Linked DNA regions of Homo sapiens: region 2 is linked to region 1. Evidence: fine-mapped expression QTL. A gene starts in region 1. The other region holds a variant in brackets. All regions are shown on one strand. Distances are from middle to middle. Region 1 holds the start of LINC02028 (long intergenic non-protein coding RNA 2028). Region 2 overlaps LINC02028 (long intergenic non-protein coding RNA 2028).

The links. PIP is the estimated chance that this variant, and not a neighbour inherited with it, causes the effect.
Region 2: its variant is fine-mapped to the expression of LINC02028 in nucleus accumbens (GTEx, PIP above 0.99). The same link has a PIP of 0.9 or more in anterior cingulate cortex, caudate, nasal epithelium, substantia nigra and thyroid.

The regions. Positions count from the first base shown.
Region 1 is chr3:194,069,418-194,072,323 of GRCh38, forward strand. LINC02028 (long intergenic non-protein coding RNA 2028) reads right to left here and starts at 1,553. Exons shown (of 3, transcript NR_136179.1): 1 at 1,405-1,553. LOC102724877 reads left to right here and starts at 672. Exons shown (of 6, transcript XR_002959666.2): 1 at 672-858. RefSeq lists a silencer at 1,571-1,750.
Region 2 is chr3:194,008,923-194,011,828 of GRCh38, forward strand. The region is part of intron 2 of LINC02028 (long intergenic non-protein coding RNA 2028); the gene reads right to left. Among named protein-coding and RNA genes, the nearest start is that of LINC02026, 6.7 kb to the left of the region's middle. The variant T/G (reference allele first, on the strand shown) is at 1,659.

The sequences.
Region 1 (2,906 bases):
GCACGCCCTCCATGCTCCTATCTAAGCATTCCCTCCTTGAGTCTCTCTAGACTGAGTCACATCCTTTCCCCACTGCTATGGACTGAACTGTATCCCCCAAAAGCCATAGGTTGAAGCCCTAGCTCCCCGTGTGACTGTATTTGGAGACCTGGCCTTTATAGAAGTAATTAAGGTTAACTGAGATCATAAGGGTGGGGCCCTAATCTGATAGGATTGGTGTCTTCATAAGAACAGACTTGCTCTCTCTCTGTGGTCACATGACGACACAGTGAGCAGACAGCCTTCTGCAAGCCAGGAAGAGCACCCTCACTAACAACCTAATTCGCCATCATCTTGATCTTGGATCTCCCAGCCTCCAGAGCCAGGAGAAAATAAATGACTATTGTTTAAGCCACCAGTCTATGGTATTTTAGCAATCATTCATACACACACACAGCATCTGCTTTGTGCCAGCCACTATACAAGTCACTTTAGACGCAGTATCAGTTGATCTCCATTTTACAGATGAGAAAACCGAAGCTTAGATTAAGCAACTTGCCCAAGGTCACACATCTGGTGAGATTCCTAGCCAGTGGTAAATTGCATAACATTCAGCCAACAAACAGAGCAGCTGCCATAAGCAGAGTTCTCAAATAATCATTTGTGTGGAAATCAAAAAGGAGGGCAACACAGTCTCTGCCCTCAGGAAACTCCGGAAGGGAGGAGAGGACAGGTAGGCCATGAGTTACAGGGGGCCACAAACGTCATAAACAGGCGTTTGTCAAAGGCCGCCGGAGAACCGGGAAGCAATGATTGGGCAAATCTGGGAAGACTTCCACAGAGGAGGTGGCAAGCCGGAACAAGGCACACAAATGCCAGGTGCTCGTAGAGGGCTGGATACAATGGGGGCTTCACTACCAGGCCTGTCAGGTGGGGCACCCCCAGAAAATCAGGCTGAGGTGACGGACTGGGACGTCTCGCAGCATGAGGCTGAGTTTAGGCAAAGCTGTCGGGGTCCCAGGACCCATGATTTCCCCCCACCCCCGTCTGCCCCATTCCCAACTTCTCTATGGGGCAGGAACTCGACGAGGGGCACCATGCTGCAGAGAAAGGGCGCCATGCCTTTGGGGCTGGGGCTCGGCAGAAGGTCCTCTGAGCGTGGATTCCAACAGGAGCTCTGCCGCCACCCAGCAGGGTGACCTTGAATACGTCTGCCCGCATGGCTGGGCTTCAAAGACCTTGCCTGGGTGATGTGTGAGCACATGTGATTCCCGCTCACACCAGGCTCTAGGCTACCGTGCAGGCGGGAGCGCGTGGGGTGGTGCAGATCCCTTGCCTCGCCCCGGTGGGGGAGGCTGTTTCTGATTTGGGGGAGCAGGCAGCGTGGGGCCTCCCGTTCAGAGCTCTCTCACCACTGGGCCTGACCTCAGGGCGCCTGGCTGGGGCCAGGAAGGCGTTCGCGTCAGACAACCCCAGCGGGGAAGCCCCCCTCTCCCGCGGGCCAAACCGCAGCTTCTTGCAGCCACTCGCCCCGGCCGGTTTCGGGAGGAGGGCGGCGCTCCGAAGGCGGCCGCGCGCAACGGGGCCTCGGTCTGTGGACCAGCGTCCCCTGAGAAGCAGAAGGGGTGTGAAGGGCAGGAAAGGGGCCGTGCCGGGCTGTCCCTCCCGCCGCCTGCTCCGCGGGTGGCGCCCGGGGCCGGGTGGCAGCGGGGTGTGGGCGGGGAGACGCGGCGGGCGCGGGGGCGGCCGGGCAGGCGGCGCGCGCTCGGAAGTGCCCCCGGGCGGCCTCCGCGGCAGGCGGCTCCTGTTTCCCGGCTCCCGCCCGGGCGGGCGCGGGGCAGCTGCTGGGAGGTGAGCGGAGCAGCGTTTTCCCACAGTCTGGGGCGGTGACACATGGCGCTCACACATTCCACAGCCGGCGGCCGCGCCAGGCCTGGCTGCGAGTCAAGGCAGCGCCGGGAGCTGCCGACGAGCAGGTTCCGACTTTGGCACCCGCCGCGCCGCCTTCCCGCCTTCCCCACGCCCGGCGGGGGCGGAGGGGGACGCAGAGGGGCCCGCGCCGGCGGCTTAACCCTTGGACGTCTAGACACAACTTTGATCAGCAGTTTATTGAATCTCAGTGTGTGTCTCACCCAGGTGCTGAATAAATGTCGAATGCATGAATGAATTACTGAATGAATGAACGAATGAACGAACAAATGAATGGACGCGCGCACACATGCTGTAGGGAGCCCTTCTTGGCTCGCTCACGTAACGCACCTATGCAACAACTGGCCAATACGCTTTCCAAAGCTCCTGACTCCCACTCCGTACATTCTTTGGTGGTGTTTCTTTGAGACAGAGTCTCTCTGTCGCCCAGGCTGGAGTGCAGTGGCGTGATCACTGCAACCTCTGCCTCCCAGGTTCAAGCGATTCTCGTGCCAGGCTCCCACCACCACGCCCGGCTAATTTTTGTATTTTTAGTAGAGACGGGGTTTCGCCATGTTGGCCAAGCTGGGCTAGAACTCCTGACCCTGTCAGGTGATTCGCCTACCTCAGCCTCCCAAAGTGCTGGGATTACAGGCATGAGTCACCGCGCCCAGCCACTCTGTACATTCTTGAAAGGCCCCTGAAGTAAGGGGGGGATGTTGGCACCCCCAGTTTACAAGGAGGAAAGCGACTAGGAGAAGTAGCTTGCTAGGGGTGGCTTTGCACTTCTAGATTCAGATAGGAACCGCCAAAGAGATGGGGAATGGGGAAGCGGGGACATCCCCGTCATCTCCCCTCCCACCATTGGACATGGTAGGCCGGGCGGGAGTCAAGGCAGTGCTTATGCCTCGACTCCAGCCCAGAGCCTGGTGTGAGTGAGCATCACCTGTGGTCAGAGATCAGCCATTTGCCTCTGAGTCGGTGATGAGGGCGTTTGCCAATCTCTGGCGGGACTCCTT
Region 2 (2,906 bases), 60 kb before region 1:
AGAGCCTGCAGCCTTGCTAACACCTTGATTTTAGACTTCTGGTCTCCAGACCTGTGAGAGAATAAATTCTGCTGTTTTAAGCCACTCAATTTGTGGTAATTTGTTACAGCGACCATATAAAACTAATAATTTCACTTTTGCAAAATAACTTTTCTTCATTTCTTCCTCTCTTTGATATACTTCCTAAAGGCAAGAGCTACAAACCAGTATACTAATGGACTGGGGAAAAAGCCTACCTTTCTCTCTATCCAGTCCCCAGGGCAGGGCCGCAATTACGTTCAAAGGGAGGGAGAATGCCAGCTCACAAAACCTGACTGCTCCACTTCCTCTCCAGGGGAGACAGCAGCAGTGAGAGAGGCTGAATCCGTGATTATGGACTATGCAGAAAGTGAGTCTCAAAATAAACAGCTCCTGGAGTCAAAGCTCAGGGGACGACATATAGAATTTTAGAGTCTTCAGGACAGAGAGAGAGCAGGTAGTTCAACTTCTTCAGGGAGAGTTTTCAGAGGTACAAGAGAGCAAGGAATTTTGTATATTTGCATATGTTTTTGTTTTATTGAGGACTCTGAGGGCTGGAGAGCAGAGAAATCTGTCCAGGGTCACAAACTAGGGGCTGATACCAACTTCACCACCCAGTGCAGGAGGGCTCTTCTTCTACTTCTGGGGTCCCGCCTCTGTGGTGCTGCCCCCAGAATGGGGGCTTATTACATAACAGGTCTCACTCCCTTAGGTCCTTCATAAGCCCTCAGCTCTCCTGGTCTGGGGACCCCACTCCATGTCATTTTAAACATCTTAAAATGCATGATTATCTCATATCAAATGTAATTTTTTCTCTTTAAAAATCTCATGGTTCTTTTATAATTTTTGCTTCTGAAAGTAATTGCCTATAAACAACTTGCTTGATTTTAGATTTTCTACAGTTTTCAGTAATCATCATACAAACCCAGGAGAATCTAGCCATAGATTGTTTTCAAAAGCAATGAAATTTATATGAATGCTACATTTCATAATTAAAAAGACTGGCATTATGCTTTCTGTTGTACAGATTTAATTAACATTTTTATTAATTTCAGGTCTGCCTTTTAGTGTTTTGATTGGGAAGTATTTGGGGAAGCCTTCACATGAAGGATGGTCAACAGGTGTTAGCAGGTAAGGTAGACAGAACTGGGTGGCAGTGCCTGAAATGTCCAGCAAACATCTCGGCTTGTGGGGCTGAGTGTAGGTGAGGGAAATAGCAGGAGAATGGATTTTAAGCACTGAGCCAGGCACTACCATATCCATAATCTCCTCTGAGACTTGGAAACCAAGCTGGGGCCAGGTTACAAATGACTTCACATGCCATTCTCCCCGCTGCCTGCCACTTGTACCTTGGGCAGCCACTGGGGACATTCCTGGTTCTGGATTCCTGCCTCTGAGCAGCTCTCTTAACATGAGTAGGAGGCCTGTGCTTCCCCACACCCGTTTCCATCTGTTTGCATGGACCAGAGCCACTTGAGATAGGGCCTTCCTAGGAATAGAAGGTAAGACCAGCATCATTCCAGGGCCACTGTGGATGGGCTTTCCCCGCCCAGGAAATGACTGCTGCATTGATCTCTGTGCCACTCAGGCCAGGGCATCCTTGTGGGGAGGATTCCAGTCTGCATTGCATCAAATACCTA[T/G]GAGAGGGAAAAGCCGTTTAAGCTAAGCATATGTTTATTTGATTGAAACAAATAACTCTCACAGGCCACAAACAATACAGGCAGACAGATGTTTCAAGCGGCACCTCATCAGCTGATTGGGCCATCATGCAATATCAGTGCACAGAATAATTCTGGAAAGATTCTAGGAAGGGAAGTTGGCTATCTTAAAATCTCTCCCTTTGGGATGAATTTCACAGCAACCACTTTAGATGGCAGTAGCGACTGATTATCCCCATTTTAAACCTTAGAACAGAAGGACCACTCCCCCAGTGATACCCAACTAGGAATGGAAGAAGCCAAGAAGACCACAACCCAGGTCTTTAGACTCTGAGATCTCTTTTCGTTGAGCTTGGCAGAACTACCACTCCAAAGACTCACAGCCTCTCAACGAATGGTGAGAGCATGTTACAAAGACATAGAAACTGGCTTGAAAGGGCGCCTGCTGGTCAAACCTGGGACAATTTATTTATCAAAATAAGTAATAATGATAATAGTTGTAACTTTTGAGTAAAATAGAAATCTGTAAATCCACACTGATACAAACAAATACACAGAAAGAAGAGAAAGCTGTCTTTATAGTAAAATGACAACTGGTAAAAGTAGACATAATGGAATTAGAATCACCATTTAGCAATCATCATAGTGATATTCAGCCAAGAAACATCAGTAGATGTTAGAACTAGTGGGTGAATGTTTACTAAGAAATGGGGAAATTTCATACTTTCAGAGTACCTCCAGCCAAATTCTTATTAACGACAAAGGGAAAAAGAGTAATTTTACAATGAATAGTCCTGACAAATACCACCTCAACTGAATAATCAAAGTGAACATTGGCTGGGCGCGGTGGCTCATGCCTGCAATTTCAGCACTTTGGGAGGCCAAGACTTGTGGGGCACTTGAGCCCAGGAGTTTGAGACCAGCCTGGGTGATATGGCAAAGCCCCATCTCTACAGAAATACAAAAAGTTACCTAGGTGTGGTGGCGTGTACCTGTAGCCCCAGCTACTTGGGAGGCTGAGGTAGGAGGATCACCTGAGCCTGGGAGGTCGAGGCTGTAGGGAGCCGAGATCATGGCACTGCACTCTAGCCTAGGTGACAGAGTGGACCCAGTCTCAAAAAAAAAAAAAAAAAAAGCAAAACCAAAAAAAACCTACAGTGAACATCACCAATAATGGGTCAAGTAGAAATCATGCACCACCTGATCAGATGTAAATATCTTGTCAAAAAT